4 linked regions of the Homo sapiens genome follow. The protein of the gene in region 1 interacts with the protein of each later gene in a pairwise test. Each region holds a gene or a part of one and is shown in the gene's direction. Other genes may lie near its edges.

Region 1 (7,021 bases):
AAAAGATTGCTAGATTCAATTATATGAGGTGAAATATCTGTACATTGAAAAAAACTCAGATGAAAATTTCTGTCCTTATAATTACTGCTAGGCAAGAATTCCGTCTTGTTTTACTTTGCTTTTATATGAATTATTCCTAAAGTAAATCATTTTTATATGCCTACATCTACTGGCATTTTTATATTATGATTTTTCCATGAATGCCCTTTAGCCATTTATCTATTAGAGTATTGTCTTATTCCTTTATAAAAGTTGCCATATATTAACCTTATCCTTGTCTTATATGTTGCAAATGCTTTACCAGTTTGTCACTTGCCTCTTAATTTGCTTGGAGTTAATAAAGTTTAGAATATATCATATATAAACCTGGTTTACTACCCACACGTAAAACCTGATTCTGCCACTTTGTTTTGTATCTTCAGGCAAGTTTGATAACCCATCTTTACCTCAGTTTCCTCTTTGGTAAATGAGGATCTTAATATATTTTATAGGGGTATTATGAAGATTAAACAAAATAATTATTTAGAATAGGCCAGGTACTGTGGCTCACACTTATAATCCCAGCGCCGTGAGAGACTGAGGCAAAAGTATGACTTAACCCCAGGAGTTTGAAACCAGCCTATGCAACGTAGCGAGACCCACATCTCTACAATAAAGTAAAATAATTATTCAAGTGTTGTGGCACATGCCTGTAGTCCCAGCTACTTGGGAGGCTGAGGTGATAGGATTGCTTGAGCACAGAAGTTCCTAGGTTGAAGTGAGCTATGATTGCATCACTGCACTCCAGCCTAAGTGACAGATAAAGACTCCCCAAAAAACTCCAAAATGCATCAGAATAACTGAGGGCAATGTCTAGCACTTAGTAATCTATTTTAGATCTGATTTTTATTTATGTTGTTTTTCAGTATACAGAAGCTTTTAATCTCATATAATTTAATCTAACAATCTTTCTTTTAAGCCTTCTGTATTAGTCCCCTCTCACCCTGCTATAAATAACTGCCCAAGACTGGCCAATTTATAAAGGAAAGAGGTTCAATTGACTCACAGTTCTGCGTGGCTGGGGAGGCCTCAGGAAACTTACAATTACAGAGGAAGGGGAAGCAGGCATGTCTTAAATGGCAGCAGGAGAGAGACAGCGAGAGAGAGTAAGAGCAAGAGACGAACTGCCAAACACCTAAAAAACCATCAGATCTTGTGAGAACTCCCCCACTATCACGAGAACAGCATGGGGAAAACTGCCCCCACGATCCAGTCACCTCCCACCAGTGCCCTCCCTCAACATGTGGGGATTACAATTCGGATTACAATTGTTGATGAGATTTGGGTGGGGACACAGCCAAACCATATCAGCTTCAATAAGTGCCTAAACTTTTTTTAAAAAGGTAAGAAATTTTTTTTAAAATTTTTTAAAAAATTTCCACAGCTTTCTGTCTTCCAAAGCATAGATTAACTGGCCAGAATGTATAGCTACTTTGTGTAATTGCTAATTCATACAGATTTAACAGAATAAAAGATTATCTGATAATTATTGCCACTGAATTGCACACTTAAAAATGGTTAAAATGACATGTTTTACATGATATATATTATACCACAACTTTTAAGTTAATTATATATCAAAAACCATTTAATTGTGTACATTAAGTGAATGCTTTGTGTGACATATGAATTTATATCTCAATAAAGCCCTTTTTAAATTAAAAAAACCTGAGAAAGTAATGTCCATTTAGAATAAGTAATTTCACTACTACTTCCAAATGAAAGAGCTGTTAAAATAAACGCTTTGCATTGTGATTCATTCATTTGACAAATATTCATTGAGCACCTAAGAGCCAAGCACTGTGCTGGGCCCTGGAGATTCACTGGTGACCAAAACAGTCATGGAGCTTATAGGAAAGGTGTGGGAAACAGATGTTTTAAAAAATTTAATCTCAGCTGGGCGTGGTGGCTCACGCCTGTAATGCCAGCACTTTGGGAGGCCGAGGTGGGCAGATCACGAGGTCAGGAAATCGAGACCATCCTGGCTAACATGGTGAAAACCCGTCTCTACTAAAAATACAAAAAATTAGCCGAGCATGGTGGCGGGCGCCTGTAGTCCCAGCTACTGCGGAGGCTGAGGCAGGAGAATGGCGGGAACCCGGGAGGCGGAGCTTGCAGTGAGCCGAGATCGCACCACCGCACTCCAGCCTGGGTGACAGAGCAAGACTCTGTCTCAAAAAAAAAAAAAAAAAAAAAAAAAAAAAATTTCTCTAATGAATGTTCAGTTACAAATCTGAGATAGATACTATCATAGAAAACTGAAAATTACTATATAATGAGAAAATAATTTAGACTGGGGGTTAGGAAAGGCCTCTTTGAGGAAGTGAAGCTGTGACTTAAAGGAAGAATAGGATTTATCCAGGAAAAGTTTTCAGCAAATTCTATGGACATCTTAAAGTAAATAAGGAACAGCTTATAGTGACACTGAATTTTGTGGAACAACAACAAAAACAAATACTCTACTAATTTTCTTTAAAAGGCTTTTTAAGGAAATGTTCTTATTCCGTAAGTGATGCTAAGATGCAGTAAATCTTCTATGTCAGGGCTTCTTGGACCTTAATGTGCCTACAGATTTACCTGAGAATCTTGTAAGATGTGGGCTCTGATGCAGTAGCTCTGGGCTGGGGCCTGAGACTCAGGGAATGCCCACATTGCTCTGCAGAGGACCATGCTGAACTGAGGAAAACAGGCAGACATTTCAGAATTCTTGAATTATTTTGTAAACTCTCTATTTTCAGTTCAAGCAAGTTTGCTGCTGTTGGATTTCATAAAACTTTGACAGATGAACTGGCTGCCTTACAAATAACTGGAGTCAAAACAACATGTCTGTGTCCTAATTTCGTAAACACTGGCTTCATCAAAAATCCAAGTACAAGGTAAGTTGAGAAATTGAGACAAAAGGATTGGTGGTTGCTATGAATACCAGCCATTCTGTGGGTTTTCCTAAATGTTTTAATCCTGAAAACACCTGATAGTTAAAGCTCTTAGTTCATTTTGATTTCAGTTTCTGCAGATTGTGGGAAAACAGGTGGAAAGCCAAAAAGAGAGAAAGCAAGGGAGCGTGACTAAAAAAGTAAATATGAATGACATTGGTAAACTTGCTAACTCTTCCTTTTTTCTTCTCCTGAGTAATGATTCACAGGCTTAAATATGCATACATGTCACCAGGTGTGCTTGGGAACTATGTTGGGGCTTCACCCTCAGATATGTTGACTTACTGGGTTTGGTTGGGGTAGGGTAGTGGCAGGGAAGGGAGCCTGGAACTCTACATTTAAAAAAGGTGATTATCATAGGTGATTCTGATAGAGATAACCCAAGACCACATGTGAAAAACACTTCCCTTGGAGGTAATCTAGAGATTAGCCTCCGAAAGGAGTACCAGATCATACTCTTTACTTGGTTAAAAAATAAAATTATAAAGGATTAATTTGAAGATAATTTTTAATGTTTTCTCTCTTTAGAAATAGCTTTAATGTCTTTGTAAACATGATGCATACTTATTTGTTTAAATTCCAATGTTAATGAAAAATACAAATCGAAAAGTTTCTTTTTTAATTTCCTTAAAACCCTCTATTGAGTGGAAACCACTCTCAAAATTTTGATAAACATCCTTCTAGACTTCTCTGAATTTTCTATAACTGGCGTATGTTACACATGGGGTCCTGGAAGCAGCAAGTATACTGCATACTTCCCTCAGCATTATGTTACAGACATCTAATAAAGTACAGAGCATTATAATAAATTGTATTGATTATTGGGAGCAATAGCATCTCCTAGTGATGATTTTAGGGTTGTTTTTAGTGTTCTGGATTTTTAACAGCAAATCAGCAATAAGCATCCTCGGGCACACATATTTTCACTTTTGGATAATTATCTCCCTCAGGTAGATTCATAAAGGGGGATTACTGGGCCAAAGGGTATATAACTTGTAAAAATTCCTACATATTGCCAAACTCCTCTCCAGAAATGCTCCACTGATTTGCACTCCTACCCACAGTGCAGGGAGAGCAACTTACTCTCTACTTCTTCATCAGTCTGCCTTCTGTGACTCTTTTAATCACCGCCAATCCAGTACGCGAAGAATCATCTTTGTTTTTACCCTGATGACTAGCTACATTCATGTTCGCATATGATTTTTGGACATTGCACTTCCTTTTATGAATTGCCTATTTTCATGGCATCAGCTCACTTTTTGCTATTGAGCTCTAGAGTTGTTTTTGTTTGTTTCTTTGTTTGTTTTTTGTTTTTTTTGAGACAGGGTTTCACTCTGTTGCCCAGGCTGGAGTGCAGTGGCGCAATCTCGGCTCACTGCAACCTCCACCTCCCAGGTTCAAGCGACTCTTGTGCCTCAGCCTCCCGAGTATCTGAGATTACAGGCACGCACGACCACGCCCAACTAATTTCCGTATTTTTAATAGAGATGGGGTTTCGCCACGTTGGCCAGGCTGTTCTCAAACTCCAGGCCTCAAGTGATCCGCCCACCTTGGCCTCCCAAAGTGCTGGGATTACAGGCATGAGCCACCATGCCCAGCTGAGCTCTAGAGATTTTTAATTAATACATAAGAAACAATTCTTCATACATTTGAGAAACCCCTTTATATATCACATCTGTTGCATATGTTTTTTTTTTCCCCAGTTGTTTTTTGTTTGCTTTTAAGCCTATTTTCATTTAGTTTTACATTAAAATTTTCTTAGGGATTTTTTTCTCATGGACTTTAGGTTCTGTGAGGTGTTTAGAAAGGTCTTTCTCATTCCAAGTTTTTGAAAATATTTACCCATATTTTTTCTAGCATATATTTTATGGTTGCATTTTTCATATTTAAATCATTGCCCCACCCAAATTTATTTTGATTTAAGAAGTAAGGTCACAGTATAGTTTTTTCCAAATAGTTAATGAGTTTTCTGCACTATTTATTAAATAATACATCATTTTCCTCACTGATATTAAATTCATATTATAAGTTCACATGCTTACTTGGATAGACTTTTGGATTCTCAATTTTATTGTAATGATGAGATTCAATTTTGCTTGGTTTTGTTTTGTTTTTCAGACAGGGTCTCATTTAGGCTGAAGTGCAGTGGTGTGATCATGGCTCACTGTAACCTTGAACTGGGCTCAAGCAACCCTCCACCTCAGCCTCCTGAGTAGGACTACAGTGTGTGTGCCATCATGCCCAGCTAATTTTTTTTTTTTTTTTTTTTTTTGAGAGCCAGGATTTTGCTGTTTGCCCAGGCTGGTCTCAAATTGGCCTTGAGCAATTCTCCCACCTCCACCTCACCTCCCAAAGTGCCAAGATTATAAGCATGAGTCATTGCATCCAGCCAAGATTCAATTTTTAAGTTTTATTCTGCCCCCTCAAACTTCCCCATATTTCCCCCAATTCAGCTGCCTTTGTTGAAAATGTATTTAAAATTAATGAAAAATATTCAGTGTGGCCACTTGAAGGGTTAATTTGAAGGTAAAATTGAAGATTCTAATTTTTTTCCTTTTTTTATTTTTTTTATTTTTTTTGAGACAAGGATTCGCTCTGTCACCCAGGCTGGATGCAGTGGCACAATCACAGCTCGCTGCAGCCTTGACCTCCTGGGCTCAACCTATTCTCCCACATCAGCCTCCCCAGTCCCTGGGACCATACAGGCATGTGTCCCCACACCTGGCTAATTTCTAAATTTTTTGTAGAGACAGGGTCTCCCTATGTTGCACAGGCTGGGCTCAAGGGCTCCTTGAACTCAATTGAACTCCTGGGCTCAAGTCATTCTCCCAACTTCAGCCTCTCAAAGTGCTGGGATTACAGGCATGAGTCACCATGCCTGGCCTAACAGTTCTATTTTATTATTATTATTATTTTTTTAGTGGAGACGGAGTTTCATCATATTGGTCAGGCTGGTCTCGAACTCTTGACAGCTGATCCACGGCCGCCAGGTTCTATTTTAAACACACTTAATTTAAGTCATCCCACAGGGAAGCAGAACAGAAAGCCAACGTTAGACAGAAATTTGGGAGCTGTCCAAAGATCTCAAGCCCCCAAGAATCTATCAAACAGTCTTTAAAATCTATTTTTAATACACAATTTTTGTTAGAAAACAAAAGTAAGAGTGTATATTTTAGAGGTCAATGTTTAAATTTATCAGTATTAAACAAGAGAACCCTAATTGGAGTCTGAAGAGAGAAGAGAAGGGACAGATATGTTTTTCAGGTTGGGAAATGGATCTGAGGAATGAAAGTAGTGAGGATAAGCTTCACTAAAACTGAAAGCAGATGTTGAAGATAAAACTTGCCAGTTTCCTCAATTTCTTTTTCAGTATGTGGATACTAAAATAACATATTTGAGTCAAGTTTTAAAGTCATACTGTCTTTCAGTAGTTAAAAACAGACATCCTATTTTCAAAAGTTATAATTGAATTTTTTAACCTTGCCCCCCCTACAAGGCCGCACAGAGCTGACCTTAACGTGGGCTCCAGCGCCCTCTCCTGACAAAACTTACTAGTGCCATTAATTCCTACATATTGCCAAACTCCTCTCCAGAAATGCTGCACTGATTTGCACTCTGGAGGAAAAGTGTGAAAAGAGGCTAAGATGATTCTAGGCTGAATATAAACCTGGCTAAGGAAGGGCCTAAAGATTGGTCCTGACATATGAACCTCTTTGAGGCTAAGCTGGTACTAAAGTAGACCCCAAAGATGAAGTTGGTTTTAATATAGAAACTTATTACTTCTAATTAGAAGAGAGAACATGTTCCTCGTTAAATACCTGTTTACATTTCAGACACCAAATAAAATGTCATTTTCTTAAACCTCACAACAATACTTTTGGGGAGATGTTATTAGTCCCTCTTCAGTAGATGAGAGAGATCTGAGGTTTAGAGAAATTAAATTACAAGTTATATACCCTTTGGCCCAGTAATCCCCCTTTATGAATCTACCTGAGGGAGATAATTATCCAAAAGTGAAAATATGTGTGCCCGAGGATGCTTATTGCTGA
Region 2 (7,693 bases), on another chromosome or scaffold:
GCAGAAAATTACAATACTTTCTTTCAGACACCTACCTTTACCAAATCCAACCTCTTATGTGCCCAACCAGATATCTTAGTCATGCTACAGTTATTTAAAGCTCTCATTTGTTAAAAAAAAAAAAAAATTATCTAGCATTCATATTTACAAATAAATGAGATAAATGGGGAACAAGTATAGCCACTTTAGATGCTATTTAACATCCGTTCTGTTTTCTTTCTATAATAGTGACCTCTACTTTCCTTGGGGACCTTACTTCCTCCCCTACTCCCAGACATGTGGGAAGAGATAGCCCCACCCGGCTTCATTCCCAGAGCCACAGTGACAATCATAAGGTTTAATCAGAACTAAGGAGATACAGCTGGGGACTTCTGCTTACAGTTATGCTCTTTCTACTGGACTTGAATCTAGGGGGATGTACTTGATAGCTTCAATCATCCATTCTCCTCATTTATCTACCTTATTGTATGCCCTGAAGAAAACTGGTCTGCACAATATAAGTTCCCTCTAGCTTCTGGTTGAATTTAGACAATGAAGAGTATGAGCAAGAGCACAGCCTTTGGGTCATCTTGCAGGGTCTGAGAGTAAGGCCGACGTGAAGGGAAATAGAGCCATGGTTGGCAGAGGGACTGGGTCCTGGCCCCATTGGCTGACTGGCTGATTCTGGTCATGCCAAGACTATTATATACACTGATTCTTTAGTTGCATGAGCCAGGACATTTCCTTTTTTTTTTTCCTCAAAACATTTTGAGTTTGGGGCTTCAAACACGTGAAACAGAGTCTTAATGAAGGTATAACTAAAAATATAGCTCTGAAGTGAAGATGCATGGATCCCTGATCCTGAGGACTCTAAATCTGACCTAAATACAGTTCCAGTCTCCCTAAGGCCCCATCCTACAGCAGATCCTGTTTTGAGATTTCTCTGAGATTCTGTCTCTCTTATACATGATTTATAGCCTTACAATATTACAATATTCACCATCTTTACTCGCCATGAGTCAGTTTGTTCCTTGGAGCAAAGCGAATGTAATGAAACAGTTCCCATCTTACAGATAGGGAAATGGAGGCCAAGATATATGAAGAGACTTCATCAAAGGCAAACCTGAACGTGGCAGGCAGGTCTCTGGCCAAGGATCTTTCCATGCCAGCTCCGTTTCTTTATGTCCCCTTTCCCTCCTTCCCTATGCTTTCCCCTTCCCCTTTGCCCTGAATTTTTGTGGTCCGGTTGCTCTAGGAGCCTAGGTCTTGTCACATTATCTCAGCACTTGGATGACATGGTTCCAGCTGTCAGAGAAGGAAAGGCATGGACTTGTTTTTCTCTGAGTTTCCTTCTATTTCTGTATGCTCATTTGGCCTTCAGCATGTGCCACCCTGTGAAAGTTTGGGGGATGTTTTATAATGTTGCTTAACTTTATTTAGCTTCCCAAGTATTTATGACTTGCCTTCAAGATGAGAGTGAATTTAGCTGGTGTCCCTGATTCACCTTGGAAAAATCTATTGTGCCTAGCACAGTATCTGGCTTGCATTAGATAATCAGTAAATATCCATTGACAAGATTGACTAAAAGAATCTTACATTAGGCAAAATGCTGGCTAAGCTGCTGTAACAAAATTACAGTGGCTCCAACATGACAGAAGTTGATTTTTCTCTCACTCCCCAGAGGTGTGCCGGCAGTCCAGGGTGGGCAGGCGGCTCTGTTCTATGAAGTCATCCAAGGGCTCCTTGCCCTGCTATCCTCTAGAGAGTGTCTTTCTCCTCATGGTCAGAGCTGGTTTACCAGTACATTCACATTCTGGCCTAAGCAAAGGGGGAAAGGGAAAGTGAAGGGAAAGGGAAAGTGAAAGGAAAGAAGGTAACTTCCTTATAAAGATGTGATTCAAATGTGCACATATTACCTCTGCTTGCTTCTCGTTGGCTAAATCACTGTCACGTGCTCGTGCTAGCTTGCAAGTGTGTTGTGGGAAGTCAGGGACCCCGAATGGAGGGACTGCCTGGAGCTCCGGCAGAGGAACATAAATTGTGAAGATTTCATGGACACTTATCGGTTCCCAAATAATACTTTTATAATTTCTTATGCCTGTCTTTACTTTAATCTCTTAATCCTGTTATCTTCGTAAGCTGAGGATATACGTCACCTCAGGACCACTATGATAACTGTATTAACTGTACAAATTGATTGTAAAACGTGTGTTTGAACAATATGAAATCAGTGCACCTTGAAAAAGAACAGAATAACAGCAATTTTTAGGGGACAAGGGAAGACAACCAAAAGGTCTGATTGCCTGCAGGGTCATTATATTATATATATATATATATATATATATATATATATATATATATATATACACACACACACACACATCTTATATATATATACACATTTTATATATATATATACACATTTTATATATATACACACATTATATATACACACACATTATATATATACACATTATATATACACATTATATATACACACATTATATATATACACATTTTATATATATATACACATTATATATATATATAAAACATTATATGTGTGTGTGTGTGTGTGTATATATATGTCCAAGAGTAATGAAAACATGTTACTGCAGAAAGACTGGTCCAATAATGTTCATAGGAGCCTTATTCATAATTAGCCAAAAGGTAGAAACAAACCAAATGTCCATCAACAGGAGAATATTTAAACATGTTGTGGGATATTCATACTGGAATACTGGAAGGCTACTCAGCAATAAAAAGGAATGAATTCCTGATACATGAAACAACCAGGGCTGATTTACTCATTTGGCACAGTAGGCACAGTTCTGGGGCCTGTGAAAATAAACTTTTAGGTGGAAGAAAATGTTTTAGGTGAAAGAAATTGTCATATTCATCTTTATAGCAACATAGTCATAAGACATAATTTTTGATTATATAAATAGTTTGTCATATTCATCTTTATAGCAACATAGTCATAAGACATAATTTTTGATTATATAGTGTGTGTACATAAAATGAAGGGGCTCATGAAGTGCTTAGGGCCCATAGAAATCATAATGCAGGCCTACAAACAAGAATAAATACTAAAATATGTGTTAAGCCAAAAACCTGGGACACAAAAGAGTACATGCTGTACTCTTAAATAGAATTCTACAACAGGCAAAACTAATCTATGTTGATAGTGACCAGAAAGTGATTACCTCTGGAGTGGGGAGAGATTGCAAGAAGGGAATGAAGGCACTTTCAGGGATGGCAGACATGCTCTATATCTTGTTTTTGGTGGTGGTTATTTAGGTGTATATACAATCTCCTAAAATCATGGAACAGAACCTTTAGGTTCTGTACATTTTATTGTATATTAATTATGCCACAATTTTAAACAAAGGGGAAGAATAGACAGGGTACAATGAATAATTTCTGTGACAGATTTGATAAATGAATTACTAGGACAGTGTTTGCTGACAAGGTTTAACATTGCATTCTTGTAGAAAACCTTTAGGAACTCAAAGGGAAGAGTCCAGGCACTGTGACAGGCCAGTGGGGAATGAACCACACTGCTCTATATTAATCAAGCTTTTTTATTGCAAACAACAGAATATATCTGGTAAGCTTATACAGCACAGGAATTTATCAGAAGAATAACAGGAAGTACTGTATTCACAACAGTCTCTGAAAACAGGCAGGAATTTAAGACAAGATCAGACCATCAGATGGCTGGTGGATCATATGATGCCATAATCCTATACCCTTGCCCCAACCAACCCACATATATCTCAGGCCTTCACTGCATCTTTTCATTACTCCTCCAAAACTGAAAACCTATGCGTGAGCCTCTGGCTTGCTGAGCCTAGGCAAAGCCTACATATAATAACTCCCATGGAGATGGAAGAGGCAATGTGTTTCATTGGCTTCTAGATGGGAGGTGGGGCCCCCAAATGACCAATGTTCCCAACAAAACCTGAACAATCTGAAATTATTCAGATTTCTGCTTGTCATTCTAACCTCTGTTCAGGACTTCCAAGATCCAGGACAGGCCCAGTGTAGATACCTGTGTCCCAAACCACTGATCTGGGCTAGGAAGACTGAATCACAGGTGTGGAAGGTCACCCGGGTTCAACCATCTAGGTGATGAATTAGGCCAGGACCTGGGCAGGTAGACCATTTATTCTGGGGAGATATGATGCGAGCTTGAATTACATGGGAGAAATATTTGTAAGGCAGATGGGATAACAGGACTTGATAAGTCTGTAGTGTGGAAAGGCTAGAAAAGAAAGGAATCAAAGGAATCCTGATTTCTGACTTGACAGGGTAGAAGGAGGTGTGTGTGTGTGTGCGTGTGTGTGTGTATGTTTATGTAGGGACAGTGACACCCAAGAGAGGCTAGGAATAGGTTTGTTTTATTCCTGTTTGGGGTGGTTGGGTAGGCAGGGTTAAGTTTTTGACTTGGTGAATTTGAGATGATGGCCAATATACAATTGACATTCCAGCTGGGGGGACCATTGAAGATCAAGTCTGGCAAGTCTACTAGCTGGCGCCTGGGTGAGCTGAGCCCAGCAGGTGAGGGAAAACGCGGGAAGAGGGTCTTGCAGATTCCAAACTTAGGAAGGGTCGCGGCTCCGCGCACGTGCTCTCGGGGTCACCTTCCCCGCGCCTGTGAGGGTGCCAGGAGTTCGTCTCCAGGTCCCGCCCCTGTGGGCGGGGCGAGGCAGCGTCGCCGCGAGGCCACCCGGAAGACCAAGCCGGGTAGGCGCTGTCTCCGTCGCCTCCAACCCCCCCGGTCCGACCAGGGAAGGTGGGATGCTCTGATGGCCGGGCCTGCGGCGCTGAGCGCGGCGGCGGCGGCTGCTCTGGCGGCCGCCCTGCTCCTGCTGCGTCGTGAGGACCCGGGGCCGGGGGCTGGCCCCAGGTAACCCCTCCGCGTATGGGACCGAGCTGGGCCAGGTCTCCTGGCCGGGCCGGGGATACCGTGGGGTATGCCCAGTGATGCCAGCAGCTTGTGGCACCTGGGCGCACCCTCCAGCTCGGGCCCCTTCCGATGGGTCTGCTGGCTCAGGTGCGGGCGATGGCCGGGGAGCCGCGCCCCGCACGTGACTCAGCACTTTCCCCAGAGCCCGGACTGCGGAGAACAATATCCTCCTCCCTAACAGATAAACAGCCCTTGTTCCTCGGGATAAGGACTGGCAGTCCCCTGACACCCTAAGACCGGCATCTGTCGATGTTATTTCCCCAGCATGGCCGAAACAGAAGCCCTGTCGAAGCTTCGGGAAGACTTCAGGATGCAGAATAAATCCGTCTTTATTTTGGGCGCCAGCGGAGAAACCGGCAGAGTGCTCTTAAAGGAAATCCTGGAGCAGGGCCTGTTTTCCAAAGTCACGCTCATTGGCCGGAGGAAGCTCACCTTCGACGAGGAAGCTTATAAAAATGTGGTGGGTATTTCAGCTGGGACTCAAATGGACCCCCAGGATTCTGCGAGGTGAACATATTTCATGCCTAAAGGCTGAATACTGCCCTGCCAGTGGTGGGGGTAGTGAGAGGCCATCAAAACTTGGCCAAGATTGGTCTGTGAGAGTCCCTCCCAGAAGTCTGACTCCTGGATTGTAGCCCAGGTGTGCCTCCCTCCCGCTCATTGTGTGGTCTTGGGCAAAGCCCTTCTCTCCATCTGCAACCCTATAAAGCTGGGTCTGGGTTGTAATGGGGGTGGGGGCTGGTGAGACAGAAGAGCACTGTTTTCAGGGTCATACAAGCTGTATTCTAGAGGCAGCCCTGGTGACCTTGAGAATTTTCTCAGCCACTTTGCTGATTTTGTCAACCTGCGCACTTCACACTAATATTGTCAGGGATTCTGAAACTGCTTTGCAGAGTGAGATAGGTCTATGGCAGTGAAAGGTGGGATTATTCACTTACAAGAATTTGCCCTGCCTGACTTCCCAGGCTTGTGTCTGTAAATCGGATATTCCCTTCACTCTAAGTTAAAGGTTTTTTTTTTTTTTTTTCTGAGACGGAGTCTCACTCTGTCCCCCAGGCTGGAGTGCAGTGGCACGATCTCGGCTCAGTGCAACCTCTGCCTTTCAGGTTCAAGCGATTCTTCTGCCTCAGCCTCCCGAGTAACTGGAACTACAGGCGTGCGTCACCACTCCTGGCTAACTTTTGTATTTTTAGTAGAGACGAGACAAGGTTTCACCATGTTGGCCAGGCTGGTCTCGAACTCTTGACCTCAGATGATGCTCCCGCTTCAGCCTCCCAAAGTGCTGCGATTACAGGCGTGAGCCACCGCGCCCAGCCTAAGTTACACTTTTATGATTATAGGAATGATATACCAGACTTCTGTCTTGTCATGACCCCCTAAATATCAGAAGCCTGAGTTTCTTGGAGATTCTGTTCTTTATTTAAAGGGAATTATCTGTGAACTGCAACAAATTAACATAGTGTGATCTCAAGACACCACAGCTACAGAATTTGGCCCCACAGGTTTCATAGAAAGAACATTTCAAATAACAAGCCATCTTGCAAATAAATGTTCTTGATTCTCGCAGGTCTGTGTTCAGGTCATGGTGTGAATGCCTTTGGTCCATCAAGTCTTGTTTATTTAAAACAGACATCTTTCCTCAGGCTGAGGCAGATGTGTTCTCACCGGTTTCATGGGCTGTGTCAGATATTCATGGTAATTAGAAGCTGAAACTGAAGGCTGGGCGTGGTGGCTCATGCCTGTAATCCCAGAGCTTTGGGAGTCCGAGGCAGGGGATCTCTTGAGGTCAAGAGTTCCAGACCAGCCTGGCCAACATGGTGAAACCCTGTCTCTACTAAAAATACAGAAATTAGCTGGGCGTGGTGGTGCACGCCTGTAATCTCAGCTACTCAGGAGGCGGAGGTGCGAGAATCACTTGAACCCAGGAGATGGAGGTTGCAGTGAGCAGAAATTGTGCCACTGCACTCCAGCCTGGGTGACAGAGCGAGACTCTGTCTCAAAAAAAAAAAAAAAAAAAGAAAAGAAACAAATTGAAATCTGTGTTTTGAGTGTCGAGTTTTGGTGGCACATCTGTTTGACTAGGTACTTTGTGAAACCCTATTTTTCTTTTTCTTTTCTTTTCTTTTCTTTTTTTTTTTTTTTTTTTTGAGATGGAGTCTCACTCTGTCGCCCAGTCTGGAGTGCAGTGGTGCGATCTCAGCTCACTGCAAGCTCCGCTTCCTGGGTTCACGCCATTCTCCTGCCTCAGCCTCCCGAGTAGCTGCAACTACAGGTGCCTACCACCACAACCGGCTAATTTTTTTTTTGCATTTTTAGTAGAGACGGGGTTTCACCATGTTAGCCAGGATGGTCTCGATCTCCTGACCTCGTGATCCACCCACCTCAGCCTCCCAAAGTGCTGGGATTAACAGTGAAACCCTATTTTTCTTTAGTGTCATAGGCAGTGCCAGAAAAATTCTTTTCAGAGTTGACAGTAAGGATGGAAACCAACATTTTATCGGAGTTCTTGGATGATAGGAATTTATCATGCTTTCTTTTTTAAGTTATACAGCAAACTGATAAGGTTAGATGGAGGTTCGTAAACTTCTGTGTGCATGAGAATTAAGGTGGGTGCTTGTTAAAAGTGCAGATTCTGATTCAGAACTATTGGTGTGGGATGTAGGAATATGCCTTTTTATTAAGCACTCCCTGACTAATTATAATGCAAATGGTTCATGGATTGGACTGAAGGAAAGATTATCA
Region 3 (7,282 bases), on another chromosome or scaffold:
TTCCGTTCTCTGCAGCATCACTCTTTTAAATCTTAAAATTGTAAACAAAGGTTCTCTCTCTTCATCCCACTTCCCCTCCAGCCACAGTCCCATTTCTCAGCCCCCTTTTGGTGCAAAACCCTTCAGAAGGGTGTCCAGCCCATTCCTCCTGCTTGAATCCCGAGGGTCAGCCCCCATGCTCATGACGCTCTTGCCAAAGCCACCAGTGACTCCAGCTCTCGGCCCCAGGGAAGCTCCCAGGCCTTCACTCGCTTACCTGCCTCTCTCTCCAGACCCAGCTCCTTTATTTTTCCCTCCCTTTCCCTGGTCAGAACCCTGGGCACCTCCTCCTCATGCTGGGGTCCAGCCTTGGCCCTTGGCCCCTCTCCTCTCTAGCCCCATCCACTCCTGGTCATCTCATCCAGGGTGGGAGCTCTAAACAGGACATGAGTGTCAATGACACCCTCACGTCCAGCTCAGACCACATGCCGCAAACTGCACACTGCACACTCTGCCCTCTCTGCTGGCCCACAGGCCCCTCCCGTGGATGGACCTGCAGGGTTGCCTCCCCTCATGTCGCCCCCAGCCGCACCTGAAGGCCCCCTCAGTTGGCCCTCTCAGCCCAGGCCCCAACCAGCAGGAAGCCTGTCAGGCCTCCTTCCAGGGAGGTTCCAAACCTGCCCCTCAAATCCCCCCATGCCCCATCCAAGTCCACACCACCTCTCATCTGGACCACAGCAGAGACCTCCTGCACTGCCCCTCCCCTCAACCCCTCATCAGCACATCAGCCAGAGGCTCCTTGGAGAACAGAAGGGGCTCAGAACCCTGCAGCGGCGTCCACTGCACACACAGGAAGAACTCAAGTGCTCATAGGCAGTGAGTCATTTCCTTAGGCATTGTGGTGACCCGGGATCATGTGCCTCCCCGAAGCCTGCACATGCACTCTAATGATGCAAGCTACCACCAGGCGGTCAGCTTTGCCAGCTGACGTCCCAAACAGCTGGCATGGGGCATGCACACAGTAGGTGCTTAATAAATGTGTGTCGGGTTAAGATAGGCCCAAAGCCATTTCAAATGTCCAGGCAGTGGTGTAGGCAGGGGTCAGCTCTGAAGCTGGCCTCCTCTCATTCGGGAGACCCCTCAGAGGTCCCAGCCTCCAGGATGCAGTGTTCAGAGCAATACTTCTCAGTGCACGTCTGGCTGTGTCCCTGCCCAGCGCTCCCAGGGTCACCCCTCTCTCTAGACTCACTTTCTGCCCCGTCACCCCACTGTACACCCTTGGTCCCAGCCCCTTCCAGTGGCTCAGCTTCCTGAACACTCCAAGCCTGGGCTCACCTCTAAGCCGTTATCTATGCTATTCTCTCAGCCAGGATGCCCTTCCCATACCCAAACAATCCGTGCTCACCTTTAAGACTGGCTGAGGCATCACCTCCTCTGAGAAGCCACCTCTCCCAAACCTGAGCCCAGATGAGCCAAAGCCCTTCCTTCCTCCAGTCAGCCTGGATCCTCTCATCCGGCAGAACTGTCGCCTTGCTTCTCTGAAGCGGTGAATGCCCTGGGGCTGGGGACGCACAGGCTCGCTGGCCCACAACCAAAGCCGCTTCCTCTGGAGGAGGAAGTCCAGGGGTGCCAGGGTTCCACTTGCTTTCTTCTTCACCCAGCCTAAAGGGCAATTTTCCCACATTCCCTCAGAACCAGGAAGTTCCCCCATTCACACTGAGCCTGTTCATGACAAAAAAAAAGGTCTCTCCGATTTCCTCTGCTCAACCAGTTCCCTGGCTACCTGAGGCCCTGCTTCACCTGGAGGAAGACAGTGGTAAGTTTCCAGCATCTCCACCACACCTCAGCGCCAGAGGACCCTCAGCCTCCCTCGCACACCTCTGGGCAGTTTGGTAACTCATCCCATCTCCTCCTGCCGCTTCATCCTCTAAGCCCTCCCCAGGGAACCCAGGAGGCGTCTGGAACCTGTTGGGGACAGTCCCTCACACCTGCCCCATTGAGTAAGGGTTCATGTGGATGCCCATCCTCCCCCAGGAGTCCCAAATCTAAGACACTCTGAGACTCCTGTCACCCACCCCCACCTTACACAGCCGGCCTTTCTGTGCAGTCCTTCCAGGAAACTCTGGCTGGACCTGGGCTCTCGGCTTGACTGCACTCTCCCCAAGTCCCCAGGGCGGCCAGTGGTGACTATTCTTGAAAACGAGCTTGGCAGAGGATCTGGGGACACGCACTCCAGATGCAAACACGTTTGCACTCTTTGGGCTGGAATCCCCTCGAGCGGTACACTGCACCCGTGGGCTTGCTAAGAAACCACCTCACAGAGGGCAGATTGATTGGACAAAAGGCATTTGGTCCCCAAATTGATTGACGTGTGTGAATGGGAGTTTTCAGAACAAAGACCCAAAGATATGGGGGAAACAGGCTGGGCGCGGTGGCTCACGCCTGTAATCCCAGCACTTTGGGAGGCCGAGGGGGGGCGGATCACGAGGTCAGGAGATCGAGACCATCCTGGCTAACACGGTGAAACTCCGTCTCTACTAAAAATACAAAAAAATTAGCGGGGGCTGTGGCGGGCGCCTGTAGTCCCAGCTACTCGGGAGGCTGAGGCAGGAGAATGGCGTGAACCCGGGAGGCGGAGCTTGCAGCGAGCCGAGATCGCGCCACTGCACTTCAGCCTGGGTGACAGAGCAAGACTCCGTCTCAAAAAAAAAAAAAAAAAAAAAAAAAGATATGGGGGAAATTGCCATTTCTGATGCTTAGGCTCAACAAAGTATGGACATCCATGCGGGAACACAGATGAACCAAGGGACCTGCACTAATGCTCCTGGACCGCAAGGGGAAGCGCAGCGAGGGCTGTTGGTCTAGATTTCTTGAACTTTCTGAGCAGCATTCCTTCCTTCTGGGCATGGAGCAGGACCCTCCTGGAATGGGGTCTTATGCCCTACAGTCAAACAAGAGAGGTCAGATAATTTATGGCCAGCTTCTAAACACAAAGGTGGAGGGAAAGTTAGAGCAATATTTTTAGGTTTGATGTCTGGCTGTGTGGAAAGGCGGGGTTCTGATTTCTATGACCTGCCCTGGGGAAAATGGATTCCAGTTTCTAAGGCCAGCTTCGGGGAAAATGGCACTGAGAGACAGGAGAGCAAGAGAAGGTCAGAGAAACACTTTTTCTTCCGAAGCTGCTTCTGAGGCCTTCATTTTGGGGTATTGTTTTCTGATGCCCAACATATCTGAGCTGCTGAACGAAGGGTAGCTGCTGAACCACTCCCACGGTGACTTGGAATGGCTTAGCCAGCCGGCCTTGGGCCACCTGGCTCTGGCCCCCCTGCCCACCAGGACTTTGGCCGGCTCTCGCTCGCCTCTGCGATGTCCGTCCCACCCTGTCTCACCCCTGCAGTTTTCTGCTCTGTGGAGCGATGATTGACACATGGCAGGGGGACACTGGTTTTGACATTTGAGCCTGTGCCCAGCCCTTGCCTGGGGAGGAGGTGGGGCAGGAGTCCTGAATGAGCATCTCCCTACTTAGTGACAGTCAGGGGCACGGAGAATGGTGCCCAGGCCAAGGGCAGGGCTTGGGCCAAGTGTGCGCAGCGTGGGGTGTGTGTGCTCCAGCGGCTCCTGCTGCGGAGGGCGGCATGAGGCTTGTTTACCTGTGTGCTGGCATCTCTGGTGGCCCCTGCAAGGGTGGGGAAGTGGCAGGCAGGGTGAAATGGGGAAAAGTGGGCTCTCAACTGCTCCTAGCAGCCTCCGGGTCTGGGGAGGGAAGTGAGGAGGGGCCCAGAGCTGTCTCCTGGTCACTCTTCTGGGGCTCTGTGCAGACCTTTGGCAGGGCCAGGCTACACCACACCCTCTACAACCTCCCCTGACTTCTTCCCCTAACCCCTCACCACCATTCCTCCGCTTTTCTCTCCCCGCCCCTGCCTCCCCTCCATTCTCTCCTTCCCTCCACCTCCCGGTCCCATCCCCTGCCCACACTGCCCCTCCTCAGGCCCAAAGTGGACACCGGTGCTGCCTGAGGGTCAGAGTGTCCACCTCCAGCAGCCCGGGCACCGGGCAGGATTCAAGCTGGAGGGGGCTGGGGCGGGCGAAGCCGGGCACGGGGCGAGCCCGCTGGTGGGCGGGGCAGGGGCGGGTCCTTCGAGGGGAGGGGCGGGCTCGGCCAGTGAGAGCGCAGAAACCGTGGCACGGGCGCTCCCGGAACTGGCGATTGCAAAGCGCGAGGGCTGGAACTCAGACCCAGAGGGGCGGTCCCTGTTGCAAGTCATCTCCCGAAAGGGCGGGGCCGGGGCTCATCCCGGAAGGACCGGTGTCTAGGTCACCCTGGAGCGCTCACCCCACCGGCACCCGTGCCCAAGCCCGCCCCTGCAAAGGCAGGTACTCGAGCACACTCCGGAGAGGGCGGCCTCTGAGCCCCGAACCCCGAACTCCGGCGCAGCGTCGCACCTCTGCCCAATGAGGTGCCCCTGACGTGCCTGCTGCGGCTGCCCTGCTCCCCCCAGCCTCCCTGCATCCCGGGATGGGGGAGGGCGCCAGGCGCAGCTCCCGGACCCTCAGGGGTCTCCCCGCCCTACCCCACCAGCCTGGGTTCGGTACCTCGGGGCTCAGATGTGCAGTCAGCTGTTAATGTGGCAAAATTTGGGGAAGTCCTCTGCAGCCGCAAAATCCAGTTCCCACCAGTTGGAGGCCGGGCGGGGAAGGGTGGGGACAGACAGCACTCCGCTGTGGGAGGTAAGGCAGAGCTACTGGGGAGCCTGGAAGGCTGAGCTATGTCTCCCCTACGCAAGACCATTCCAGAAGCCCCTTGGAGCTCTGGCTGCTGGCCACAGGGGAAGGTAGACCTTCCCTGAGAGCTGCACTGTGTTGGGGACAGGGCCACTGTGGGCCTACGGAGGGCCTCCAGGCACAGGGACCCACATCAGCCCTCTGGCCACAGAAGGCGCTGATGATTTGAGGTGGACTCAGCCACCACTCCGAGCCTCTGCCTCCCTCTAAAAGTGGGGCATGGCACATTCCTGTGTCAGGCAACCAGGCACTGAGCCTGGCCCACCTGCAGGGGTCGGGGGGAGCAGCTTGTCCCTGTCTCCCCTCCCCGGGAGGCTGTGTGCCTGGAGACCAGAGCTGTCAAAAGTGGAGGAGGGGGACCCCCTGATGTGTCCTCTAAGGTCCAGGTAGCAGGAGAGCTCCACTGGGGAGGGGGTCCTGCAGTGCTGTCCTCTCTTGCAGGCAAGGCCAGGCGGGTGCTGCCTGGGACCCAGTGACTCAGCACCCCTGCCCGGATCAACTGGACTTTTGCCCCCTGCTCCGCCAGCCTCCTGCTTGGATCTCTCCTGGGTCTCCCTGCTGCGCCTGTCCAGGATGCAGGGAGCTCGGGCTCCCAGGGACCAGGGCCGGTCCCCCGGCAGGATGAGCGCTCTAGGCCGGTCCTCGGTCATCTTGCTTACCTACGTGCTGGCCGCCACAGAACTTACCTGCCTCTTCATGCAGTTCTCCATCGTGCCAGTGAGTAACACACCCCAGCCCCTGCAGCCCCAGCCAGGGCTGAACCGCTGTTCCTCCTGCCCTCCATCTGGGCCGTCGCAGAGAGTGGGGGTGGGGGTTTCATGCTGCCAGGGCCCCTCCCAGTTGGGACTCATGCCACGCTTAAGCTGAGTAAGTTAAGGACTCTGCCTCTGGACCCCCGTCAGCACATCCTGTGCTCCAGCTTCAGTGCCAGCCCCGGGAGAAGCCATGGGGAGCCACCCCACTTCCCTCCTGGGGGCAGCACCTCCTCAAACCTTCCTAGCGCTGTTCCTCCTGCCTCTCACCCGGCAGCCTTTGCCCTCTGGAGTCCCTGCCCCAAGGGCTGTTCAATCCGGTGTGGCTCTGGGCGGATCACCCCTCAGAGAGGCTCTCCTTGCACCTGCCCGCAGCTTCTATCTCTCCCCTCCATCTTCTTGGGTCCTTGTTGTCCACTAAATGATCTGTGGCGGCAAATTGATCTCAAGCTTTTTCTTGCAAGAGATAGAATGCTGTCTTATTTTATTATCTCTGTTGCCAAATGCGGAAACATTTCATTGGCAAATTCATGTTAGTTTAGTGTATCATTCAGTAGTCTATACCACAGTGTGTGGCTCTGGAAGCTGTAATAGTAATGATTAAATTATATTCACCAAGTCTGGAGAGGCTTGGGAACAAAGTCTCACATCACCAAGAAGCTCAGGCAGAGTCAGGGCCAACCTCGGCCCTTCCTGTGTTTGCTTCTGGGAAGCCCGGCGTGCGTGGGCTCAGACAGCTGCCCTCCTCCTCTCAGCCCTCAGAGCCTGGACCTGGGCATCTAGGCGGGAGTGGGGATGGGCCTTTGGCACCATTCCGGGCCTGGCAGAGGCTCCCAGCCCGAGGGTGAGCCTAAGGATCCCTCCCCGCCGTGCCTCAGGCGCCCCGCCCACTCCTGCTAAATGGCTGGGGCCAAGCCCTGAATCTCCTCCCTACCCGTGGGGAAGGCTGGGCAGGAGCCTTGCTTTTCTCATCATAAAATGGGTAATAACAGTCCCTCCCTGTAGGATTGGTGCGGGGAAGAGTGAATGAGAAGTCAGAACCCTTCCCACAGCTGGGCACAGAGCACAGGTGGAGTGGCTTCAGCCACCCATCGACTCTCATGGGGAGTAACTCCGTGCTGAGTGCCCAGGAGCTGACCCTGATGTCAGAACCTGAAATATTGCAGAGTGTAAAAATCCTCAACAGCCCACTCCCTCGGAGCTGGGGGTCCACACGCACAGGGGCTGCAGTGGGAAGGGGGCGAGGTCTTCCTCATAGAGAAGGCAACCTTGGAGCAGGGCTGGAAGGAAGCAGGAGAGGCCCCGGGGCAGTGGAGAGAGCAGAGTGGCTAGAGTGGACCGGTTGAGGCCAGAATGGGACCACACCCCACCTGCTGCTCAAAGAACTCCGGGCTGGTGATGGCTGTGGAGGAGGTGAGAGGTGGCTGGATTTTGCATGTGTTGTCAATGGACTGTAGTGGGTGTGAGAGAAAGCAGGGCTCAGGGAGCACTGAAGATCTGGGCCTGAGCCCATAAGGAAGGAGGCATGGACAGGAGGAGAGGGAAAGATGGGAGCCCAGTTGGGGACGGGTTGAGTTTGAGACGATTTTCGACCCCAGTGGAGAGCCGAAGGGAGCTGGACACAAGGCAGTTCAGCACAGAGGCTCTGGGGCCCTGCAGCATGGAGACGGTCATGGGCTGGGCTCCCCCAGAGGGCAGGGAGGCTGGAGGTCGGATGAGCTGGGGGAACTGGCAGTGGTGATGGAGGAGGGGCAAAGGACCCAGCACAG
Region 4 (7,917 bases), on another chromosome or scaffold:
AATTCTGCATAAGCATCATGTTAGTCACCTATCACCAAAATAATCTTAGTGGTTTAAAATACAAGTATTTATTTTTCTCATTCACTCCTCTGCGTGCAGGTTGGCTAGATTTTGGTGATGTTGGCTGGGTTCACCTGGGATTGTCCCCAGAATTCCAGCTGGGTTCAGGTCTGCTCCAAATATCTCCTTCTGGAGCCCAGAGTGAAGGGGTAGTGGTTATTCAGGAGGTGCTTCTCATGGTTATGGCAGAAGCCCAAGCGGGCAAGCCAACTGAGCAAAGCCTCTGTTTGGGTCACACCTGCTAACTAACACCTTTCTGCCCAAGGATATCACTCTACCAACTACCCAAAGGGCAGGAAAGTCCACTCTGCCCATCATGAGGCTATGACAAGGGTATGGACATACAGTATAATACTATGGTAGAGGGATGAAAAATTAAGTCCAATAATTCGGGAATCACCATCTTCTGAACATAAATGCTATAGCCTATCAAGTAGAAAAAGAATAAACTCGGCAATTAAGAAAATTTATACCCAATTCACAATTTAAAATATTCTTGGTTGCTTCCATTTACTGTGTGTGTCCCATTAAGTGTGTAGATGTTAAATATGCTTTGCCTAACTTCCCTAACAATGTAATCAGGATCAAATGCACCATAGTGGATTGTTATATCACATCATTTTACAAAAACAAAAGAAAACAAAAACACCTCTATTGTTTGAAAGATATTTTTAAAATTGCTTATTTCAAGTTATTTTACATGTAAAATATTTAAAATATTACTAAATTTCACCTTTTAAAATACTTACCAGGCAGGGCGCAGTGGCTCACTCCTGTAATCCCAGCACTTTGGGAGACCGAGGTGGGCAGATTGCTTGAGCCAGTTCAAGACCAGCCTTGGCAACACAGTGATGCCCTGTCTCTAAAAAAGATATAAATAAAATAGTGTATAGTTGCATCACAGTACCCAATACAGTGGTTTACACATAGTAGGTGCTTAATATATGTTGCTGAGTGAATTCTTGAATAAAAAATATAGGTGATTTTTATTTTATCCTGTGAGCTGAATTTATTTAGCATCAGAATTTTTGAGCAAAATGTTAACATAAATGAATGACTTGCTTGCTCTGCACAGGCACTTTTGTTTGGTAGGACCATAGCATTCTGTGCCAACTCTTGAAAACTGTTGAAACAATCTGCAACTTTTCATTTGTATTTCAACTCAACAATAATAATGACTGGACTTTCGAAAATATGTATTAAGCCCGTTGGGGGGTGGTTATACTATTTCTATCATATTATTTTCAAGGAAAATTAATCCTTTATTTACTAAGGAACAAAGTAAAAAACTATATTATTCTGTTAATATTTGGGCTAAAAATTTCCTTATTATTAGTTTTGGTGCCTAATAATATCCTCCACCCATTAATTGTTATATAGTGATTTAATATTTTAGTCATTTTAATGATATAAATGCTATTGTTTGATAATCCTCCCTTTAAAAGATAGAGTCAAATCCTCTTCCCCTTTAAGTGCAGGGTTGGACTTAGTGACTCTCTTCCAAAAAAATAGAACATGGCAGAAGTGATGAGGTGTAATTAGGTCATAAACGACATTGTGTTTCCCCCTTGCTGTCTGTCTCCCAGCTGTTAAGTCATAAGGACATTCAAGATGTTCTATGAACTTCATGTGGCAAGGAATTGAAACCTCATTAACAGCAATCAGCAAGAAATAAAGACATTCTTTCTATAGCTGTCTGAGTAAGAGATCTTAGAAGGGGATCCTCCAGCCCTAATCAAACTCAGTCATGTCTAAAATGACTGCATTCCAAGTAGAAGTCTTAACTAGAACCTCATGGGAAACCTAAGGCAGAACTATCCAGCGAAGCCACTCTGAAATTTTTAAATTACAGAAACTATGAGATATTAAATGTTGTTTTAAGCTGCCCAATTTGTTATGGGGGTAATTCATTGTGCCACAATAGAAACTAATACAAACATTCTGTTGTTTTCATAAAATGCATTGGCCACTTTATAAATTCATGTTTTAATTCCTGTGTTATGAGTTTCTCAAACTAGTTTGAAGCAATAAACTCTGGACGATTTCAGCATAATTATTTTAGAAATATTTTGGAGAAATACAGGATGATAGAGCTTTCATAGTGCTCTAGAGACTACTGATTAAATGATATGAACAGATTTAGTAATCTAGAAAGATCTTTATTGCTGTGTCTGCCCATAACCAAATTTGCTCTAATTTTTTTCTAAAATAATTTTTCTTCTTACAAAAAAAAGCTAAGTTTTTAGAGCAATTAAATAAAAAGTGAAACTATGCAAGCCCGTGCTCAGACATAATACTATCATTTTAGCACATTCTTCTATTGTGTATCTTTAGTAGAATTTTTAAAAGGTAAGTTCATACTGTACATGTTTTAAATTGAACATGAATATTTTCATGTCATTTAATACTCATCTCTAATGTAATCTATAAACATCTTCACTCTAAACCCTTCTCATCTCCATTACACTATCACTCGAGATGAAATTATTACTATTTTTTGCCTCAGCTGCTTGCCTTTAGTAGGTGGAAGCCTTTACTCTTCCCCATACAGAGCCAGGTGGATTCCTATAAAACATCAATACAGTCACATTACTCCTCTACTCTCAAAAAACCTAAATTTTGTTCACCACCGACAAGGCTTTGCAAGATCTGGCACCTAGCCTCCTTTCAGCTCTCATTTCCTATCACTTTCACCCTTTCTCACTGGCTACCTAGTTTGCTATCGGGGCGTTTCTCTTGCTCAGCTCTGCCTGGAAAACTTCTCCCACATATTCACAAATGGCTCACTCCCTCACTTCATTCAGTTCTCTGCTCAAAGGTCACTTCTTCAGAGAGGACTTCCTTATTCTAAAAAAAAAAAAAAAAAGCTTCCTTTATTGCTCACTTAGGCTTTTTTAATACAATCATGTCATTATTTGACATTGCACTATATTTGACAGGATATATTTATCTGTTCTTTGTCTCCCTAAACTAGAATGTCAGTTCTAACAATGCAAGCACCTTGTCTGGCTTATTTATCATTCTATCCTTATTGCTTAAAATAGTATCTGACACGAGATAGGTGCTTAATAAATATATTTTTGTTAAACAACTGTATGGATATACACTTTAAATAATAAATTATTAATCAATAATAATTATTTGATATTTGCATTCCTGCTTATTTTTTTCCTATTATGAGCAAGCATGCCATAAACATATGTATGTTATCCATGCCAGAAACATGTAAAAAACCCCTATATTTGTTTTCTAAGATTTTGGAGTCAAAAAATATGGTTATTTTTACAGTTTTTGATACATAGTGCCAAACTGCTCTCCATCAGAAAGTTATGTTTTATATCACTTCAGAAATTAATGAAAGCTACTTTCTTCTCACCTGGAAAGACAATGTGCATTTTCCCTTTTAAACACCTTAATACGTGAAAGATAATTAAGATTTACCTTTTTTCAATTAGTAAAGGACTTTTTATATGATATTATCTATTTACACTTCCTTTTTTTGTATGAATTGCCTCTACATGTCCTTTGCTCATATTTCTGATTTGCCTTTATTCATTGGTATGAACTCTTTGTACATTAAAGCTACTGTTCCATTGTTTAAACCATGTTAAAATGTCATTTTTCTGTTTGTGATTTGCCTTTCAATTGTGATTACTATATATTTTAAAATTTACTATATGGACATTTAAATTTTATACAGTCAAGAGACTCAACACCTTTGCCCAAGCTGCATCGCAATCAAATTTAAGAATGTCAATTCGTTATTTAAAAATGTTAATTATACATTTTAATGTACGCTATCAAAATATCTCATGTAACCCATAAATATATACACCTACTATACACCCATAAAAAATAAAAAGTGATAAAACCACAGAAAAAAATGTCAGTTCAATCAAAACAAAGTTGATTATCACTCTCAATCAAGGTTCGCATCTGGAAGATCGAGAACTGCACGTCAGAGTTCTCTTGGAAAAGCTCTAGGAATCCTGGGCTTCCAACGAGTTGAAGGAACATAGGATGAAACCATGGAAGTCTTCCTCAGATCTGGGGAGGGAGCCTGGCCCAAGAGCCCGTGGAGCTAATGAAAACAGGTAGTAGGGGACGCTCTACAGTAGTCCTCTCAGTTATTCAATTAGAGGTCCCAATTTTGAACGATATAACTGGGATTTCAATACCCTGAGTGATTTAGACACATCAGAAAAAAATACGACAGAAAACTATAGTTTCTTTACAGCCTTAGAAAAGGAAAACGCGTAATTTCTAACTCCAGGAGGACAGTATTCGAGTACGTGGGTTTCTTTCACCCCCGACGTGCACTTCAACTTTTAAAATGCTTGCTCTGGTGGTCCACAGTACTTTCGCGTTCACTGGGCGGTACCATATCTCTCAATAGATTTGATCCAAAACCCCAAGTGCGGGAGACAAAGCTAGGTGGAACGTTATTAACCCTCCACAACTCCAACCTCTACTAGCTTCCTCGGAGCAGGCGAGGCACCAGGCCCGTGAGAAAACACTGAGATCTGGGGCGTAGCTGTGACATGGGGTATTTCTGGCCGGGATCTCACCGGGTAGGCTCCACCCGCGGGTTATCGGCTCCCTCCAAGAAGCATCTTTGAACTCCTCCCATGCAGGCCCTATTCCTACACCAGTTCTCTTTCTGGAATCTCTTTGGTACTGTGTTTCATTAATCCCACAACCATATTCCCACCTATTCCCTAACGACAACAAACTTTTAAGGTCCAGGTTACCGCCGCGTCTCCCTAGCAACCGTGCCCTTTAATGGTTGCCGGAAGAGGCTATAATCACGTGCTCCGAAGACTTCCGGGTTTCCAACGTGACTTCCGGTTGTCAGAATTTACCCCTGACGCGGCGGCGGCCGACGGGAAGCTGTGTGTGCTTAGGTCGTGGTGGCCCCGGTGGTGGTGGGCTCCGGGCGGGCTCGCGTCATCCTGCCCCCGCTGCGATGCATCCGCGGCGCCCGGACGGATTTGATGGCTTGGGCTACCGGGGTGGTGCCCGGGACGAGCAGGGCTTTGGCGGCGCCTTCCCTGCAAGGTCCTTCAGCACCGGGTCGGACCTGGGCCACTGGGTGACGACTCCCCCAGATATCCCCGGCAGCCGCAACCTGCACTGGGGCGAGAAGAGCCCGCCCTACGGCGTGCCCACCACCTCCACCCCGTACGAAGGCCCCACGGAGGAACCCTTTTCCAGTGGCGGCGGCGGCAGTGTGCAGGGGCAGAGCAGTGGTGAGAAGCATGGGGACCGACACAGGGATGAGGGGTTACTGGGGCCGCGGCTTGCGGCCTGCAGACCCCGGAAGCGGCGCAGAGGATCCCGCCTCCTATTCCTTCTCATCCTATCGCGCGCCACACCCTTTGCCCTCCTTTGGTCCTCTGCCCCTGAGGCTGGCCTCCTCTTCCTCACAAACGAATTCTCCTGGATCAACTCCAAAAAAGACATCTGCCTTAGCTATGGGGTGCATAGCAGGAATTTTTAGAGGTTTTGGTGTCTCAACTGATGGTCTGAGTTAAAAAGGAGATTGGATTATTAACTGTTCCCTGATTCACTTTGGCAGCTCTATTTTCTTGATTTAATTAATTAATTAATGTGTTTACTTGTAGTTTTGTGTTCTGAAAAGAGAAGCCTTTCAGCATAAGCATACTTGGGTTCAAACTTGGTTGTGCCACTCGTAATCTGAACAACTTAACCTCTGTGAGCCCTCAGTTTTCTCATCTTTAAGATGTGTAGAAGAATCCTGTATGGGACACATAGGCTAAAAAAAAAAAGTTTCCTTCCTTTTCCTTTTTGAACACAGGAGTTTTGTCTGCTTTTCAGATCCCCAGTCTAGAAAGTTTCCTTCCTATAATTTTCCTTTCTGCTTTCCTTCTGCTGACCTAAAAACTACATATAAAAGTTAGAAACACTGATACAATTTCAAGATAGGACTTCGGAATCATGACATAATTATTCTCCATGGGATGTCAGAAAAGCTGCAACACTGCATGATGTAGATATTTTCAACATCCTTTTTTATTCATAAAATGTGAATAATGGCTACCTCTTTCTATTCTTCTGGAATTGTTAGAATAATAGATTAATGGTATTAATATTAAATTTATTGTAGAAATCAGCTTTATTCTTATTTCCTCGACTTTGACTTGGAAGTACAATAATATTTAACTAAGAAGAACAGACTAACGAATGTCTAGTGAGTAAATGAGGATGTGAAGAAAGATAGATGACTTACCTAGCTAATTGTCATACAATTAGCTTTTTGACTCTTCCCGGTTTAAAGTTATGCTTTGGTGGTTACAATGAGGAGGAGTTCCTTGACACAAGCAGGGGTTTATTTTGCAGCCTTAACAGGTGGGTGAATGTTAATTTTGCAACAAAGATAGACACCTAAGAGACTTACACAGTAAACAAGATTAAACCTTCCTAACACCTTCCAGAAAATGCTAGTAGCATTTTCTGTTGCTATTTGGGGATGATCTATACATACAAAATGGGTAAGGCCGGGCGTGGTGGCTCACGCCTGTAATCCTAGCACTTTGGGAGGCCAAGGCGGGCGGATCACGAGGTCAGGAGATCGAGACCATCCTGGCTAACACGATGAAACCCCGTCTCCACTAAAAAATAGAAAAAATTAGCCGGGCGTGGTGGCGGATGCCTGTAGTCCCAGCTACTCGGGAGGCTGAGGCAGGAGAATGGCGTGAACCCGGGAGGCGGAGCTTGCAGTGAGCCGAGATCGCGTCACTGCACTCCAGCCTGGGCGACAGAGCGAGACTCCGTCTCAAAACAAACAAAAAAAGGTAAAATCTAAGGTAAAAGTACCGTAGGTGGGTAAAAGAAGCTTTCTATTTAGCTTATACATTTTTCTAGGGTAAACTGCGTAATTTCCCAGGAACATGCTTAGGTGGCCTTGTTCTGATTGAAAGGGAATAGTGAGGGCAGTTGCTTCACTTGAAAGAGAAGAGGAGAGAAAGAATTGTAACTTGTGAATATTGTATTATAGTTAGAATTTGATGTCTGGTCCCCTGGGGTTGTAATAGTTCACCACTATGACTTTGAGTTTAGTCAAGAAGAAAGGCTTTTCTCTTTTGACATATGCATAGGAATGTTCCCAGCTGTGAACTTTTCCAGTAACATAACAGACATACCATCTGTAGTAGCATTTAGGTATCCAGTAACCTACTCCAATTAATTAAACAGCTAGCCTCAAACTATTTAAAACTTGAAGAGATGGGGGAGAGCTGTATTTACCCATTTTGGTTATCCCTAAGTACCCTTTCAAGTTAATAATTTAGAGGTGCTTTACTTGTAGTTATTGGTTTAATAAAGTGCTCTCCGTCAGTAACAGTGAATAACTAGTTTTACAGCATAAGAGGTAAAGTCGCAGGTGGAATATCAGCTGCGGCCAACCATGGAAAATTTTTTATTTGATTGGAATCAGAAGCTGAAAACTGGTAGCCCTTAGGTTCTGTCCGGATATTTGTTTCATTAGGCCAAGACAATGTGTTAACAGTTTTTGAAATAGTTGTCCAGGACTTTAAAATTGGAAGCTTTTATATAAAATGAGAATATCTTTTTTTGAAAAAATTACAACTTCAAAACCCTGGGCCCACACTCTAATGTGGCAACAATGAATTGGAGTGAAAGCGTAATTGTGCTTTAAACACTCTACACCTTGCAATTTGCCACAGACCCCAGCAGAGTCCTTCATTCATTTAAATTATTTACCTGGCCCCTATCAGAATTTGACTTTGAGGTTTAAATGAACAGCAGGTTAATAAAATAAATTTTTTAAAATTGTTTTGAGACTAAACCTAAATTGTCAGTAATTGGTTATCAGTA

What was found.
Region 2: the proteins of HSD17B11 (region 1) and HTATIP2 interact in binary tests that used the Homo sapiens proteins (3 or more experiments, as listed by UniProt).
Region 3: the proteins of HSD17B11 (region 1) and SLC67A1 interact in binary tests that used the Homo sapiens proteins (3 or more experiments, as listed by UniProt).
Region 4: the proteins of HSD17B11 (region 1) and SLC25A46 interact in binary tests that used the Homo sapiens proteins (3 or more experiments, as listed by UniProt).

Annotation. Positions count from the first base shown.
Region 1 is NC_000004.12:87,353,173-87,360,193, reverse strand, and holds part of HSD17B11 (estradiol 17-beta-dehydrogenase 11 precursor), read left to right. Parts: intron 1-2,777; coding exon 2,778-2,915; intron 2,916-7,021. UniProt on the Homo sapiens protein: Can convert androstan-3-alpha,17-beta-diol (3-alpha-diol) to androsterone in vitro, suggesting that it may participate in androgen metabolism during steroidogenesis.
Region 2 is NC_000011.10:20,359,022-20,366,714, forward strand, and holds the start of HTATIP2 (protein HTATIP2), read left to right. Parts: upstream 1-4,692; 5' UTR 4,693-4,790; coding exon of another isoform or gene 4,791-4,891; 5' UTR 4,892-5,215; coding exon of another isoform or gene 5,216-5,216; coding exon 5,217-5,411; intron 5,412-7,693. UniProt on the Homo sapiens protein: Represses translation by preventing reactivation of elongation factor eEF1A. May also inhibit nuclear import by competing with nuclear import substrates for binding to a subset of nuclear transport receptors.
Region 3 is NC_000011.10:2,898,012-2,905,293, forward strand, and holds the start of SLC67A1 (solute carrier family 67 member A1), read left to right. Parts: upstream 1-4,266; 5' UTR 4,267-4,353; exon of another isoform or gene 4,354-4,584; coding exon of another isoform or gene 4,585-4,707; intron 4,708-5,202; coding exon of another isoform or gene 5,203-5,334; coding exon 5,335-5,478; exon of another isoform or gene 5,479-5,564; intron 5,565-7,282. UniProt on the Homo sapiens protein: May act as a transporter of organic cations based on a proton efflux antiport mechanism. May play a role in the transport of chloroquine and quinidine-related compounds in kidney. Plays a role in the regulation of lipid metabolism.
Region 4 is NC_000005.10:110,734,094-110,742,010, forward strand, and holds the start of SLC25A46 (mitochondrial outer membrane protein SLC25A46), read left to right. Parts: upstream 1-4,913; 5' UTR 4,914-5,026; coding exon 5,027-5,309; intron 5,310-7,917. UniProt on the Homo sapiens protein: Transmembrane protein of the mitochondrial outer membrane that controls mitochondrial organization.